2 linked regions of the Homo sapiens genome follow. The protein of the gene in region 2 purifies or fractionates together with the protein of the main gene of each other region. This does not show direct contact. Each region holds a gene or a part of one and is shown on either strand. Other genes may lie near its edges.

What was found.
Region 1: the proteins of KCNJ11 (region 2) and MINDY2 purify together in Homo sapiens (affinity purification with mass spectrometry; 3 studies listed by BioGRID and IntAct, with this or other methods). This does not show direct contact.

What each region holds. Positions count from the first base shown.
Region 1 is NC_000015.10:58,766,205-58,774,648, forward strand, and holds the start of MINDY2 (ubiquitin carboxyl-terminal hydrolase MINDY-2), read left to right. Parts: upstream 1-5,097; 5' UTR 5,098-5,191; coding exon 5,192-6,031; intron 6,032-8,444. UniProt on the Homo sapiens protein: Hydrolase that can remove 'Lys-48'-linked conjugated ubiquitin from proteins. Binds to polyubiquitin chains of different linkage types, including 'Lys-6', 'Lys-11', 'Lys-29', 'Lys-33', 'Lys-48' and 'Lys-63'.
Region 2 is NC_000011.10:17,385,152-17,392,804, forward strand, and holds KCNJ11 (ATP-sensitive inward rectifier potassium channel 11), read right to left. Parts: upstream 3,509-7,653; 5' UTR 2,941-3,508; coding exon 1,768-2,940; 3' UTR 97-1,767; downstream 1-96. UniProt on the Homo sapiens protein: Inward rectifier potassium channel that forms the pore of ATP-sensitive potassium channels (KATP), regulating potassium permeability as a function of cytoplasmic ATP and ADP concentrations in many different cells.

The sequences.
Region 1 (8,444 bases), on a different chromosome or scaffold from region 2:
TAAATCAATAAACAATATATACAATTATTTTTTTCTGTCCAGTGAATGCAATACAGTGTTTTGGGTTTTTTTAGACGATCTTATTCTGTTACCCAGGCTGGAGTGGAGTGGTGCCATCGTAGCTCACTACAGCCTCGAACGCCTGGGCTCAAGTAATCCTCCCACCTTGGCCTCCCAAAGTGTTGGGATTACAGGCATGAGCCACAGCACTCAGCCTACAACTGTTAAATGTAGAAACCAGAGTGTAAACATGTTTCTCAGAAGCAAGGGTACAAAGAGCTAAAGAACAGCTATGAGGCTGGGTGTGGTGGTGAGCGCCTATAGTTTGTGCTACTCTGGAGGCTGAGTCAGTAGGATTGCTTGAGCCAAGTTAGAGGCTGTAGTGTGCCACAACAGCCACTGTGAATAGCCACAGCACTCCAGTCTGGGCAACATAGTGAGATCGTGTCTCAAAAAAAAAAAAGAAACAGCTATGAGTTGAAAGAGACTGTGAGGCTGTTTATAAAGAACAGGACTCAAGGGTCTGGAAGGACAGAACAGGGAAGTGCGTCGTTTTTATATAAACTATTTAACTTTTAAGACTATTATATCTGAAACTTTGAAAAATAATTTTTAAAATTTGGATAGCAGCCAGGTGCAGTGGCTCATGCCTATAATTACAGCATTTTGAGAGACCAAGTTGGGAGGATTGCTTGTACTCAGGAATTCAAGACCAGCCTGGGCAACATATGCTACAAAAATTTTAAAAACTAGCAGGGCATGGTGATATACACCTGTAGTCCCAGCTACTCAGGAGGCTGAGGCAGGAGGCTCACTTGAACCTGGGAGGTTGAGATTTCAGTGAGCCATGATTGCGCAACTGTGCTCCAGCCTGGTTGACAGAGTGAGACCCTGTCTTAAATAAATAAATTAATTTAATTAAATAAAATTTGGATGGTACTATTTAACTTAAAAACAGCAATCTTACCTCAGAGTTTACCTAAAGATACATATACGCAAAATAAGAATAAAATATCAGTTTGTCTTCTGGTATTCTCCCTAGATGCCACTCCCCACCTCCCTTAAAAAATAACTATGTACCTTTTCATGAACTTAAATAACTACCTATATTTTCACAGCTGTTTATCTAGGCTTAATTGTTGACAACAGCATGAAAAGAAAAACTGGTTCTGTTTGTTACAAAAAAAATATTAAATGATGCCATGTGAGCATTTGAAACGCATACCAATAAAAACTACCACAGCAAGTACAGGTTTATCCAAGTAAAGGTTTTGAAAAATGGTGAAGGGCCATTATTTGAGAAGTGTATGCCATGATTTTTGGCTCTCCTATGGCTCACAGGCCTATAAATGATTCATTCATTTAATTTATTCATATAACACAGCTTTATACATTTCCTTTTTACATTTGAGGTACTATGCTAAATTCTAAATTTCCTGAAATCTGTATTCCTTTTTTTTTTTTTTTTTGAGATGGAGTTACACTCTTGCTGCCCAGGCTAAAGTGCAATAGCGCAATCTCGGCTCACTGCAACCTCTGCCTCCCAGGTTCAAGCGATTCTCCTGCCTCAGGCTACCAAGTAGCTGGGATTGTGGGCGTGTGCCACCACACCCAGCTAATTTTGTATTTTTAGTAGGGACAGGGTTTCTCCATGTTGGTCAGGCTGGTCTTGAACTCCCGACTGCAGGTGATCTGCCTGCCTCAGCTTCCCAAAGTGCTGAGGTGACAGGCCGTGAGCCACTGCGCCCGGCCTTGAAATCTGTATTATTCTTATTTATATTTCATGGCCTAAAATACCGTAAAATGCTTAAACCAGCAGCATATATTTTAATCTATTAACATCTCCAATTCTTTTTTAGGCAGAAAATTCAAATTTAAGAACAGGATTTATTGTTTATGGATTGACATGGAGATCAAAAGCACACACAACTCCTAAATTCAACATTCTGAAAAAGCTCTCCATTATCTTTTCTAATTTTCCTGTTGTCCAAGAGTAGGATGTGGGTGGAGGATTACCTAGGTGCCGAGGCAAGAGACTGAAGGCACAAACTGTTTCAGTATAATAAAGAAAATAGTTAGAATAAGAATAGTCATAATACAAATTAGATATAGAGATGATCATGGACAATTATCAATCATTATTATAAACATGATTAATCATTAGCTTTTAATATTACTCTTTGTTGCATTACTAATATAACCTAGGAATAACCAGCGGGTATAGGGTCAGGTGCTGAAGGGACATTGTGAGAAGTGACCTAGAAGACAAGAGGTGAGCCTTCGGTCACGCCCGCGTAAGGGCCGCTTGAGGGCTCCTTGGTCAAGCGGTAACGCCAGTGTCTGGGAAGGCACCCGTTACTTAGCAGACCGTGAAAGGGAGTCTCCTTTCCTTGGAGGAGTCAGGGAACACTGCTCCACCAGCTTCTTGTGGAAGGCTGGATATTATCCAGGCCTGCCTGCAGTCCTGGGGCCTAAATCCCTCCCTGTGGTGCTGTGCTTCAATGGTCACGTTCCTTGTCCACTTTCATGCTCCTCCCATACTCCTGGTTCCTCTTTGAAGCTCGTAGTAGATAGCGGTAGAAGAAACAGTGAAAGTCTTAAAGTCTTTGATCTTTCTTGTAAGTGCAGAGAAGAAAATGCTGACGTATGCTGCCTTCTCTCTCTGCTTCAGCTACCTAAAAGAGAAGGCCCCCGCCATCCTGTAATCACGTGACTTGCTTCATCTTGTCAATCACTTAAAAGATTCACCCTCCTTACCCTGCCCCCTTGTCTTGTATGCAATAAATATCAGCGAGCCCAGCCGTTCGGGGCCACTACCGGTCTCCGCATCTTTACGGTAGCGGTCCGCCGGGCCTAGCTGTTTTCTCTTTATCTCTCTGTCTTGTGTCTTTATTTATTACAATCTCTCGTCTCTGAACACGGGGAGAACACCCGCTAAGCCCCGTAAGGCTGGACCCTACAGTTGGACATATACCATAGTATCATGTCAATGCGGATCACAAGGTCAGAAGTTAGAGACCAGCCTGGCCAAGGTAGTGAAACCTCGTCTTTACTAAAAATACAAAAAAAATTAGCTGGACCTGGTGGCGTGCGCCTGTAGTCCCAGCTACTTGGGAGGCTGAGGCAGGAGAATCACTTGAACCCGGGAGGTGGAGGTTGCAATGAGCTGAGATGGCGCCACTGTACTATAGCCTGGGTGACAAAGCGAGACTGCGTCTCAAGTGGGAAAAAAAAAAAAAAAAAAAAAAAAAGGGGCACAGTCTTCTGCATTCTCAGGTAAACAAGAATATAAGTATCCAACATTCATGTATTATATGTAATACATATTATGTGTGGCCGGGCATGGTGGCTCACGCCTGTAATCCTAGCACTTTGGGGGCCGAGGTGGGCAGATCACGAGGTCAGGAGATCAAGACCATCCTGGCTAACACGGTGAAACCCCGTCTCTACTAAAAATACAAAAAGTTAGCTGGGCGTGGTGGCGGGCGCCTGTAGTCCCAGCTACTCAGGAGGCTGAGGCAGGAGAATGGCGTGAACCCGGGAGGCGGAGCTTGCAGTGAGCCGAGATCGCGCCACTGCACGCCAGCCTGGGCGACAGAGCAAGACTCCGTCTCAAAAACAACAACAACAACAAATTAGCCAGGCATGGTGGCGGGCGCCTATAGTCCCAGCTACTCGGGAGGCTGAGGCAGGAGAATCGCTTGAACCCGGGAGGCGGAGGTTGCAGTGAGCCAAGATCGTGCCACTGCACTCCAGCCTGGGCGACAGAGAGAGACTCCGTTTCAAAAAAAAAAAAAAACAAAAGCAAAAACAAAAACAAAAAAACATATAAGTATGTATTAAAAAATAGCAATAAGAAAAAAAAAGACAGTAAGCTCCATGAAGATATAAGCTCCGTGATCCACTATGGCATCTCCAGTGACAGACAGCATCCAGCAACTTACTTGGTACTAAAATGTATTAAAGGAATGAATGAAATACTACTTTGCAATCTTGTCTGCCTTCTCTAACCAACAGAGGTGCAAAAATATCACATTCTAATTATGTATCAGGTATTTATATGTCTGCGAAGGAAGACCTGTCTCGTTAATTTTTTATCCCCAACAGCCTAGAAAATGTTGAAAGAAAAAAGATGGGGGAAAAAGCCCTTTTCTGTAACAAGTTAGAATAGGACCCACATACATTTTGTTACTAACAAAACGTCCAGCTTGTCTTTCTTCTTTGAAAACTGCATGGCCTTAAGAGGAGTCCATTCTAATTAGGAAAAAAGTCACCTTTTCAGAAGCAGGCGCTTCCCACTCCATGCAAAGTGAAGCCAAGTTAGCAAAACCGCAAAGACTTGGCTAATTCAAATACAAGCTAATTTATTATTATTGGCGCAAATTAGCCACTTTCTTTTGCTACGCATGTCAATGTCCACAATCATACCGACCCTTTCCTGTAGGGCGAATGTCTCACCAGTAGCTGGTGAGAAGCACAGCTCTTCTCAGCCAAAACCGACAGAGACTGGAATTTGTGCAGTGCAGTAATCCAAAGCCGTCGAGTAGATATGCCTGCTTTAAAATCTGCATCTCGTAAGAAATGCCTTAATTTTCCATATTAGGAGCTGAGAAACCAAGTCCCCTGAGCCCTTCAGGGACAAGTTCTTTTCCAAATACTACAACCACCTCCAACCACCCAACAATGCCTCAGGCCGAGGGTGGGCCACACGCGACCCAGCGCTAAAGGGTCACAGCCAAGCTGTCCGCCTCCTGCCTTCCCTTTAAAGAAGCCGCACACAAGGGAGCTGCCCGGGAGTTCAACTTCCGGCCACATAGTGAGAGGATGTTTTCCTACTGGAGCTGAGCCGCGGGGGCGCGCCCCCCGGCCGCGCCCTCCTAGCCACGCCCTCCACGCCCGGCCTTCCGAGAGCGAGCTCGGTCGGACGCACGGAAAGGGCTGGGCCACGTGGGCGGCTGCTGAGTGGTTCGCCTTCGCCTCTCAGCGCGCAGTCAGGCGGAGGCAAGCTCAGAGCGCACGGACAGAGCGGTAGCGCGCGCCCGCGCGCGTTCTTAGTACTCTCCCCGGTGACGTGCCTGACCGAGGCCGCGCCAGGGCGCTGTTGCTGCCAATACAGCTGTCATGGCGTCCAAGGCGCTGGCTGCGGAGAAGTGGCCGCGGTCTCCATAGAGCTGGGGGCGGGCGGCCCGGTATGGAGAGCAGCCCCGAGAGCCTGCAGCCGCTAGAACACGGGGTGGCGGCCGGGCCAGCGTCAGGGACAGGTTCTTCGCAGGAAGGGCTACAGGAGACCAGGCTCGCCGCTGGTGATGGTCCTGGGGTATGGGCGGCGGAGACCAGCGGCGGGAATGGGCTGGGGGCGGCGGCCGCCAGGAGGAGCCTCCCGGACTCGGCTTCTCCCGCGGGCTCTCCTGAGGTTCCCGGACCCTGCAGCTCCTCCGCGGGTTTGGACTTGAAGGACAGTGGTTTGGAGAGTCCTGCTGCCGCCGAGGCGCCTCTGAGAGGGCAGTACAAGGTGACCGCCTCCCCGGAGACAGCCGTGGCCGGAGTGGGTCATGAGTTGGGTACCGCCGGAGACGCGGGAGCCCGCCCGGATCTCGCCGGCACCTGCCAAGCAGAACTGACCGCCGCCGGCTCCGAAGAGCCCAGCAGCGCCGGCGGCCTCAGCAGCAGTTGCAGCGACCCGAGCCCTCCTGGGGAATCTCCGAGCCTGGACTCTCTGGAGTCGTTCTCTAACCTGCATTCTTTTCCCAGTAGCTGCGAGTTCAATAGTGAGGAGGGAGCGGAGAACAGGGTCCCTGAGGAGGAGGAGGGCGCGGCGGTGTTGCCCGGGGCTGTTCCTCTGTGCAAGGAGGAGGAGGGGGAGGAGACCGCTCAGGTGCTGGCGGCCTCCAAGGAACGCTTCCCGGGACAATCTGTGTATCACATCAAGTGGATCCAGTGGAAGGAAGAGAACACACCCATCATCACCCAGAATGAGAACGGACCCTGCCCCTTGCTGGCCATCCTCAATGTTTTGCTCCTGGCCTGGAAGGTACATTCTGCAGCTTTCTACTTCCTACAGCTTTTGGGGTGGAGGAAAACGGGGTGAGGGAGCTGCTGCATGTCAGGTGATGGCTTCCTTTCTTTCCTCATTCATCAGTCCCCTTCTTACATGAAATTCATTCCAAGACTTCCATGTTGAAGGAATATTCCTTTATACATATATCGAAAAGAATTGCCCCTAACCTCAGTCTTCTCTTGTAGTGTTTAAGAGTTCAACATTCAATTGTGGTTGATACACTTAGAAACAAGAAGGACTTAGAGCATCTTAAATCTTATGATTATTTTAAACTATAATTTCCTACATTTTCTTACTGACCTTATCACATATGCAAAAAAGTGAAGAATTGGAGAAAGTAATCTTCAGAAGTTACCATCAATCCGTGATATCATGGACTAAGTTTTCATGGTTATATTTAGTTTGATTTCCAACTAATGCCCCATTTGTGTGTAGATACTTAAGAGAATGGTGATGGGGAAGATGTGGCTCTTTAGACAAATTCCATTTAAGGAAAAGCATTGGTCTGAGACCCAATTACCGTAACTTCTTGGTTTTCAAAGATTGTTTTCATTTTATGCATGATTTTTACTTGCCTCATTTCTTTGGCTCTCCTTAAATGGTTTGGCATTATTACCAGTAACCATGCATCCGAATGTGTTAAGGGAGCTAAAACTCTAAAGAACTAAAATAAGAAAAGGTATGTCTAAGGTGAAGGAGCAAAAAAGGGAAAGACCCTTAAAAATAGGTATGTTGAGGACTCAGAGCGAGTTACCTGTCAAATGAAGTGTCTCATTTAAGCTTGCAGTGTTAGGGTGCTGAGAAGATGCATCTCACAGCACCTATTTTATTTTCAAATTGATAATTATATCTGTAGATGCAATGTTTCCTAGGAAAAAAAAACAAAACAAACTGGGTGTGGTGGTGTGCGCCTGTAATCCCAGCTACTCCGTAAGCTCAGCTACTCTGGAGGCTGACACAAGACAATCGCTTGAGCCCAGAAGTTTGAGACCAGCCTGGGCAATACAGTGAGACCCTATATTAAAAGAAAAAGAAAAATAACCTGGATTCTTCTAAACACTTAGGTAGAAAATCAAGTAAAGGGAATAGTGTTTATCAAACATGCCTTTATCTTCCTGTCGCTAGCAAGGACTGATAGAAAAGAAATAAAATTAGAAACCTTGCCATTGTCTGGTGCATAATGGCACTGAGATGTTTTAAGTGAAGACAGTACCTGCCCTTAAAAGGCTGTCAAGCTGTTTGAGGTGGCATCATTAACTTACTGGAAACTGTTTAAGAACAAGAAATAGTAAGTTATATGAGACAAGTGGTAGGTAAACTGTGGTAAATCTGTGGAAATGCATTTGATATTCAAAAAGGGGACATTTTCCTTTGGTATGGCGTAGTCCTAGAAAACTTCATGGGATTTATGGGTCTTGAACCAATCTTTTTTTTTTTCGTTTGTTTGTTTGTTTTAAAGACAAATTAGAGCAATTTAACAGATCTTTTAAGGAAGAGAATTTAGAATAACAGGGAAATGGAATTCCCAGGGGAGAGAAGAGTATAAACCAAAGGAATGAAAATAGAATGGATATTGTGTGTTTATATGTTTATTACATGACAGAAGTGGTAAGCTAATGTTGGAGAATAATGAAAAATAAGGTTGAAAAGGTGAACAAGAGCCATTTGATAAGGGCCCTCAACTAGGGAGTTAGTTAGACTTGCTCTAACGGGCCAGAGTCCCTAATCTTTTTTGTAGGAAGGAATAACTATTATTTTCCTTTAGTCTTTTTTCTTATGTAGTACTGCAGAAATTCAGAGGAAAGGGCAAGTACTGTGGTGTGGAGTATTTGGGGATAGATGCATATTAAACTGACTCATTCAATTCAGACAGATTCAAGTGAATGATCAAGTGTTTGGGTTCCCACTGTGCGTGAGGTACTAGAAATGCAAAGATGAGGCCGGGCGCGGTGGCTCACGCCTGTATTCCCAGCATTTCGGGAGGCCGAGGCGGGTGGATCACCTGAGGTCAGGAGTTCGAGACCACCCTGGCCAACATGGTGAAACCCCGTCTCTACTAAACATACAAAAAATTAGACGGGCATGGTGGTGGGCACCTGTAATCCCAGCTACTTGGGAGGTTGAGGCAGGAGAATCTCTTGAACCCAGGAGGTGGAGGTTGCGGTTAGCCGAGATCACGCCACTGCACTCCAGCCTGGGCAACAAGAGTGAAACCCCGTCCCAAAAAAAGAAAAAAAAAAAAAAAAAAGGAAATGCAAAGATGAGTATGATGCAAATCTGCCCTCGTGTAGCTGACTATCTAGTGGGATGACAGACATATAAACAATAATTACAGTGCAATGTGAGAAGCTCTAATATGCTATGGAAGTGCAGAGAAAACGGTAAT
Region 2 (7,653 bases):
CCTAAAATCGTGGTCTCAGCTAGGAGGGGACACCGTGTGGAAAGAAAGACCTGGCAAAGAAACATGACCAAGGGCAAAATAAAAGCACCGTCTCTCTTTAACACTTGTTTGGCCGTTTCCTCAGCATGTAGCTGATTCAGCAGCAATCACAATAGTTAACATTTATTGAGCACTTACTGTAGACCAGGCACTTCAGCATTTTACATATTTTTCATTTACTTCCAAAACAATTCTATGAGGTAGGTACTATTAGCATCCATGTTATAGAAGAGGCAACTGAGACACAGAGAGGCTAAGTTACTTGACAAAAGTCATACAGCTAGAGCCAGGATTCGAACCCAGGCAGTTGGCTCGAGAGTTAGTGCTCCAATTACTACACTAATGCCTATGACACCTCTATACCTCTCCCTGGGCACTCCAGCCTTCCAGCAGGTCCCTGGGAGTAGAGACAGAGCCCAGGGCTGCAAAGCCTGGTGAGTGCCCAAAGGCTGAGTTGGCCAGACAGGCTGACAGGGCTGGGCCACCTGAGACAGGAGAGGGGAAAGTCCCCCTGAACTGGTGGAAGAGGTGCCAGCCTTCCGTCCCTCCCCTGCCCTCCCCGCTAGGGTCTATGGCGCCTCTTGAAGGGGGTGGCAGCTGCCAGTCCCTGCCTCCCTTCCCACCAGCATGCTTGCTGCCTCCCCAGCAAGAAAAGCCCAGAGTTTAGGTCATGAGGGGGAGGCTTTATTGACAACGGAGAAGGCAGAGTTCTAGGCAAGTTCACACAACACTGCTCCAAGGGTCCAGGCACGGGTCAAACCCGTCAGGACCAAGGGCCTCTTCACCTCAGGGACCTCAGTCCCTCCCACCATCCTGAACCTTCCCACACCTTTTCCAGCAACCCAAAGATATCCACCCCCAAGCCACCTTCTGGACAAAGTGAGTGGCAGCCACTGTTGTGGAGCCAGGACCAGAGTTGGGTCTGAGGCCTAATCATGTGTGGTGGGCACAGTACCCCCTCTCCTCAGCCTCTGGGGACAGGCAGGAGGTAGGCAGGGGCAGCAGCCCCAGCCCACAGAGCCCTCACTGCACGAGGCCGATGTGGCAAAAGGCAGGAGCCCTGGCATCTCCTCCTCCCTGTGCCTGAGCGGGGCTCTACAAAGCCGAGCCTCCTCAGGTCACCTTCCCCTGCTTCCTCCCCTTCCAGACCTGAAACTGGCCCTCGGAGGGGAGCCCTGTCAGCCCCAGGCTGTCCCTGCCGGTGTAGGCTCCACAGCACCAACCCTCCAGCGGGAACACCCTCTCTCATCAACTGCCCTCCCTGCTGGCCAGGCCCAGCCCTTAGCCAGGTGCTTTTTCAGGGACCAAGTAGAGCTGGGGCCTGACCACAGGCACTTCTTGGAGCCACAGACGCAAAGCAGCAGCCCTCGGGGATTGTTCTTCCCCAGCCACCGGCCCAGAGTGTGGCTGGTCAATCGTGGGGACCCAGGACTGGCTGGACGCACAGCTCTAGGGCCCAGTACCTCCCACAGCCTCTGCAGCCTTGGGCGGGGGAGAGGGGTGAGCCAGTCCTGAATTGGGTTGGGAGGAGCAGGGACAAAAATAACCCAGTACAGGTTCCTGCTGAGGCCAGAAATAGCATAGTGACAAGTGCCTTGTAACACCCTGGATGAGCAGCAGGGGGAGGCTGAGCTGAGGCTGGCCCAGCCTCACACCAGGCCCTGGCCGGGCTACATACCACATGGTCCGTGTGTACACACGCGTGTGGGGGGCCCGAGAGACCATGGCTCAGGACAGGGAATCTGGAGAGATGCTGAACTTGGGCTTGGCCTTGGCCATGGGCACGCTGCGCTTGCGCAGGGGCCCGCGGGCTGAGGCGAGGGTCAGAGCTTCCAGTAGGCTGTGGTCCTCATCAAGCTGGCGGGCCGTGCAGAGTGGTGTGGGCACTTTGACGGTGTTGCCAAACTTGGAGTAGTCCACAGAGTAACGTCCGTCCTCCTCAGCTACAATGGGCACAAAGCGCTGGCCCCACAGGATCTCATCGGCCAGGTAGGAGGTGCGGGCCTGGGTGGTGATGCCCGTGGTTTCCACCACGCCTTCCAGGATGACGATGATCTCGAGGTCCTGGTGGTGGTGCAGGTCGCTGGGTGCCAGGTCGTAGAGTGGGCTGTTGGCATCAATGACATGGTAGATGATCAGCGGGGCCACCAGGAAGATGCTGTTGCCACCCACGCCGTTCTCCATGGGGATGTCCACCTGGTGGAGGGGCACCACCTCGCCCTCGGGGCTGGTGGTCTTGCGTACCACCTGCATGTGGATGGTGGCGCTGATGATCATGCTCTTGCGGAGGTCACCCACACGTAGCATGAAGCAGAGGCGGCCGTGGCGCAGGGCGATCACCGCATGCTTGCTGAAGATGAGGGTCTCAGCCCTGCGGTGGGCTTGGGCAGTCTTCATGAAGATGCAGCCAAGCATGATGGCGTTGATCATGAGCCCCACGATGTTCTGCACGATGAGGATCAGGATGGCCAGTGGGCACTCCTCAGTCACCATGCGCCCCCCAAAGCCAATAGTCACTTGGACCTCAATGGAGAAAAGGAAGGCAGACGAGAAGGAGTGGATGCTGGTGACACAGGGCTCAGCAGTGCCCTCGCTGGGGGCCAGGTCACCGTGGGCGAAGGCGATGAGCCACCAGGCCATGGCGAAGAGCAGCCAGCTGCACAGGAAGGACATGGTGAAGATGAGCAATGTGTGTGGCCACTTGAGGTCCACCAGCGTGGTGAACACGTCCTGCAGGAAGCGGCCCTGCTCCCGGATGTTCTTGTGGGCCACGTTGCAGTTGCCTTTCTTGGACACAAAGCGGGCCCTCCGCTGGCGGGCACGGTACCTGGGCTTGGCAGGGTCCTCTGCCAGGCGTGTCAGCACGTATTCCTCGGGGATGATGCCCTTGCGGGACAGCATGGCTCCGGTGACCCCCAGGGAGGGGCTTCCCCCATCGGAGGCACCCCTCGGACGTGGCCTAGGGCCTCACTGCAGAGTCCTCTCGGTGGGCACCTTCTCACCCTGGGGCTGCACTCAGCCTGTGCTGGCCTCACTTCTGAGATAACTCCCCACCAGACTCTTCCTTACCTCCACCTGGGTCCCACTTCACTTCTTAATACCAGCCTCAGGCCGGGCGCGGTGGCTCACGCCTGTAATCCCAGTACGTTGGGAGGCTGAGGAGGGCAGATCACTAGGTCAGGAGTTCGAGACCAGCCTGACCAACATGGTGAAACCCCATCTCTACTAAAAATACAAAAGTTAGCCGGGCATGGTGGTGCGCACCTGTAATCCCAGCTACTCAGGAAGCTGAGGCAGGAGAATCGCTTGAACCCGAGAGGCGGAGGTTGCAGTGAGCCAAGATCACGCCACTGCACTCCAGCCTGGGCGACAGAGCGAGACTCCGTCTCAAAAACAAAAAACAAAACAAAAAAAACAGCCTCACCCTTGAGCCCACCTGCCTGGCGCCTAGGGAGCCCCCAACCCTGCCGGCTCTCCACCTGGCCCTGCGTCCTCCCCCAGCTTCCCCCACCAGCTGACCACCCCTGGGCCTCCCGCTAAGAGCCCTTCTCCCCGCCCAGCCTGCCTTCCCAGCCCAGCTCAGAACTTAACACCTCCGGATCTCTCCCACTAACCGGACCTCACCCCCACCTCCGGGTCTCCCGCCTCACCTGTCTGGCCTTCGGGCTCCCAGGCTCCAGCTCAGGTCCTGGCCACCCCCGCCCCGTCTCTCCTCCAGGTGCGCCCCCTATGTCCTACTCCACCCCTCCCGGAGCGCCCCCGCCGCTTTCCGGATCCCCCTCCAGCTCTCGTCCTCTCTGTCTCCTTGGGATCCTGCGTTCTCTGGAGTCACCACCCCACCCGGCTCAACCGCGGCTCCCCGGACCTGCGCGCGACCCGGCGGGGCTGACTCCGAGTCGCGGCCTCCCGGTCCCTGCCGCCCGCCCGCGCCGCGGCTCCCGCTCCGCGCCGGGTCCCGGCCCCGCCCGCCGCCGCCGCTGCACCTGCTCCTGCTCCTCACGCCACGGCCGTCGCCTCCCCGCCCCCTCCCGCCGCCCGGGCGCTCGCGGCTGGCCGTCCTCCCGTCTGTCTGTCCGTCCGTGGGTCCGCGGAGACCGACCTGGGCTAGGCAGGGGTCTAGGACGGCGGGAGGGGGGCGCACGAGGAGAGGAACGGGGCCGGGGACCGCCAGGGGGAGCCCGACCTGCACCGGAGCGCAGGGGGCGGGGCCGGAGCAAGCCCCCGCCCCTCCCGCGCCCCTCCCCGCCCCCGCCCTCCACCTCCCCTCCCGGGACTCACAACCCGGCCTTTGGAGTTTTTCTGATCCGCGGAACCCAGAGGTTCCTCCTGCCCACGCTCTACGAAAGTGGGGGGCTGGGAGGGATCTGTGACCCGCCCTCCCAGTCTGGGGCCGCCGCCCTGTCGCCCTGGCTCCCCTCCCCCAATATCCCCATCCGTATTTGGGTCAGTAATCCGCCTCTCGGCCGCGCCAGGTTTGCAGGTTCCCCGGGAAAGGAGGCGCTGAGAGGCGGCGCCACCAATCCCAGGGCTGGCGGAAATTAGGCGGTCCGAGGACTTCTCAACCTGCAGCTGCTTCTCTTTGGGGGATGCTCTTAATCTTAGTCTTGAATCCTTTGACAATCTGATGGAAGCTCAGACTCCCTCTCATTAAAAAAAAAAAAAAAAAAAAAAAAAAAAAAGGCCTCGGCAGGAAAGGAGCACAGTTTAACACCTGCTACTGCTGTGGGGCAGCCTGGGCGGCTCCATCTTCTCAGCCATTCCGGCCCTACTTTAAAGAAGGTTTGAGCCGAGGCCACTTGCTTTACACTTTCTCACACCTGTCACCTGACTTCTTCCACGTTAGGTCATGGGTGGTATTTAGGCCTGAACAGTGTGTTAGGGCTGCCTCGGGCACTGGGGGACCCAGGCTCTTGGTCCCGGCATGGTGGTGTTTCTGTTCAGGCATCAGCCTGAGGCTGCCCTGTGGCATGGACCCGGGTTCTCAGCTGGGAGGGAAAGCCTGCTAGATCTCTGTTGTTGGAACAGTAACGGCTTTACCGCTGTCTGTGGCTCAGATCCTTATGGAAGAACCCCTGACCATCTGCGGCCATTTTGTTGGAGTGGGGGCTTGAGACAGGGTCTGGAAAAGGCAGTGTGGCTGTGGGCCACAGTGGGGGCAAGATATGCATTTTATATTGGATTTTCCTTTCTCTCCCTACCCACCTGCAGGCAGAGCGAACACCGCTACAAAGGATGGGTGTGATCATGGGCTATATTAACAAAGATGCAGTGTCTAGGAAGGGGAGGGTAAAATGAGATGAGCAGAGTGGGAAGCTCAAGGAGACAGGGTTACATGGGGAAATCTCTGAGGCAACTACAACTGTCCAGCCATCAGAAAAGGAAAGTCCCCCAGGGATTTGGGCACTATTGCAGAAACACCTGGCCTTGAAGGAGGATGAACTAGTAGTTTTTTGTGGCCCAAAGGGTAGAACCAGGACACTAAGTGGAACAGAGGCAGGCTTTGGTTTCACATATGCAAGAGTCAGTTCTAATAACAATAACCAGAGATGAGCCACATCTGTGGGGTACCCAAATCAAGTCGGTGGGCCATGAGGGATGTTATACAGGGATTTTGGGCCAGGATGACCTTGGGCATCCCTGCAACACCTCACTGTGGGCCCAGCCCTGCCCCTGCTACTTCCCTTCAATCTGTTGAGGTGGGGTGGCTTTGGAGCAGTGGTAGGCTTGTGGAGTCCTCTTTCAGTTCCCCGGCTCTGCTCTTGGGAGATCTCACAGTGGAGGAAGCTGCTGGGCCCCTGGGGAAATCTCAGAGCTGGAAAGGCTGGGTTCTGCCTCCTGGTGCAGCCTTGAGGCCTTACCTCCCTCCCTGCTGCTCACCCTTCTGAGAGGCTGAGTCTCCCACCTGAAAGGCTCAGCCTCCCCTTTTGCTCCATCCTGCACTTGCTTATAGTCATCTCCACCAAATACTGAACTTGTCAAGTCGCTTTCTTGCTCAAAACCCTTCTCCCTTTTTGTCCATGGGCATAGCCCACACTCCTTGCTCTGGCATTCAGGGCTCTCTGATATGATGCCCTCCCCACTGCTGTAATCTCTCTCCCACCTCCCTGATCAACCAACACTCTTAACACACTTCCACCATCACTCCTTAGCTCCTGCTGTCCCTACCTGCCACCCCAACCCTTTCTCTGACTTTCTGCCTAACCAATCCCTATCCCCCACAATATTTAACTCAAATTTTGTCTTTTCCAGGCAGGCTGCCAGGCTTTACAGAGCTCTTCCTTTCCGAGCTTCTCTGGCTCCTGGAACATCCACAGGGGTCTGCACTGGACCTGCCTCCGATAACTGGTGGGCTTTTCTTATGTTGTGCCTCTATGATCCCCTTGCAGCCAAGAGGATGCAGGTTCAAGACTCTTAGGTCTGCACCTCAGGGCTTGGTGCAGCCAGTACTGCAGATGATATGCAAATGATCATAAAATGAGATGTAAATGAGCACCTGCCATTTCTTGGCCAAGGGCAGGTGTGCACTCTTGTTTCGTGATGCAGAGGAAGTCAGGACAGCTGCTGTTTTAGTCTCCCTGGTGTCTGGGCTCCAGCGTCTCCCAGACACCACCTGGCTGACCTGTGACTCATGCACTGTGCTTTCCCTCTGAAGGACCACCTTTCCACTTCTGAATGCCCCTGCTTGAGGGATGGAGATGGAGACATGATCCAGGCCTAGCCAGCCAGTGTATGCCACCCCTCTGATCACAGTGGGGTGGGGATGGGAATGTGATCCAAGTTGGTGCATTGAGATTTGCTCCCAAGCTTTTGCTGGAACTATTGGGAAGGAGTATCTGTTTTGCCTCTTGGGTTGCCTTGGGGCAGGATGTAAGCTGGACCTGCTAGTGGCCATCTGTCATAATGAAAGGGGAGGAAAATGGAACCCAGAAAGGAAGACACATCCCAGATGGATGTCAAACACCTGGGTCCAGCCATGCTTGAAGTAGTATACCTCTTAGCCTTGTCAGTCACATATTCAATAAATTCAGTTTCTGCTTAGGTTACTTTGAATTGGGTTCCTGTCATTTGCAATTGAAATAGTGTTAATCCAGATTTTAATTCAAGAATGAAAGTGAGAAGAAAGGAGACCAAGCTGTATGGAGATCTGTTACCTTATCTGATAAGCTCATTGCAGAAATGCTATCACCCTTGCTATGGACATAATTGTGTCCTGCCAAATTCACAGGTTGAAGCCTAATCCTACAATGTAACTGTATTTGGAAACAGGGCCTGTGAGGAGATAATTAAGGTTTAATGAGGTAATAGGGGTGGGGCCCTAATCCAATATGACTGGTGTCCTTTTAAGACACAGAGAGAAAGCAGGGATGCATGTGCACAGAGTAAAGGTCATGTGAGCACACAGCCAGAAGGCAGCCCTCTGCAAGCCAAGGAGAGAGGCCTCAGGAGAAACCAAACCTGCCAACACCTTGATCCCAGACTTCAGCCTCCAGAACTGTGAGAAAAAAGTCTGTTTTAAAGCCACCCAGTCTGTGATATGTTGTTGTGGCAGCCTGGCTGACTAATAGAGGCCTCATTTCACAGGTAAGGAAGCAGGCTTTTGCTCACACAGCTTCT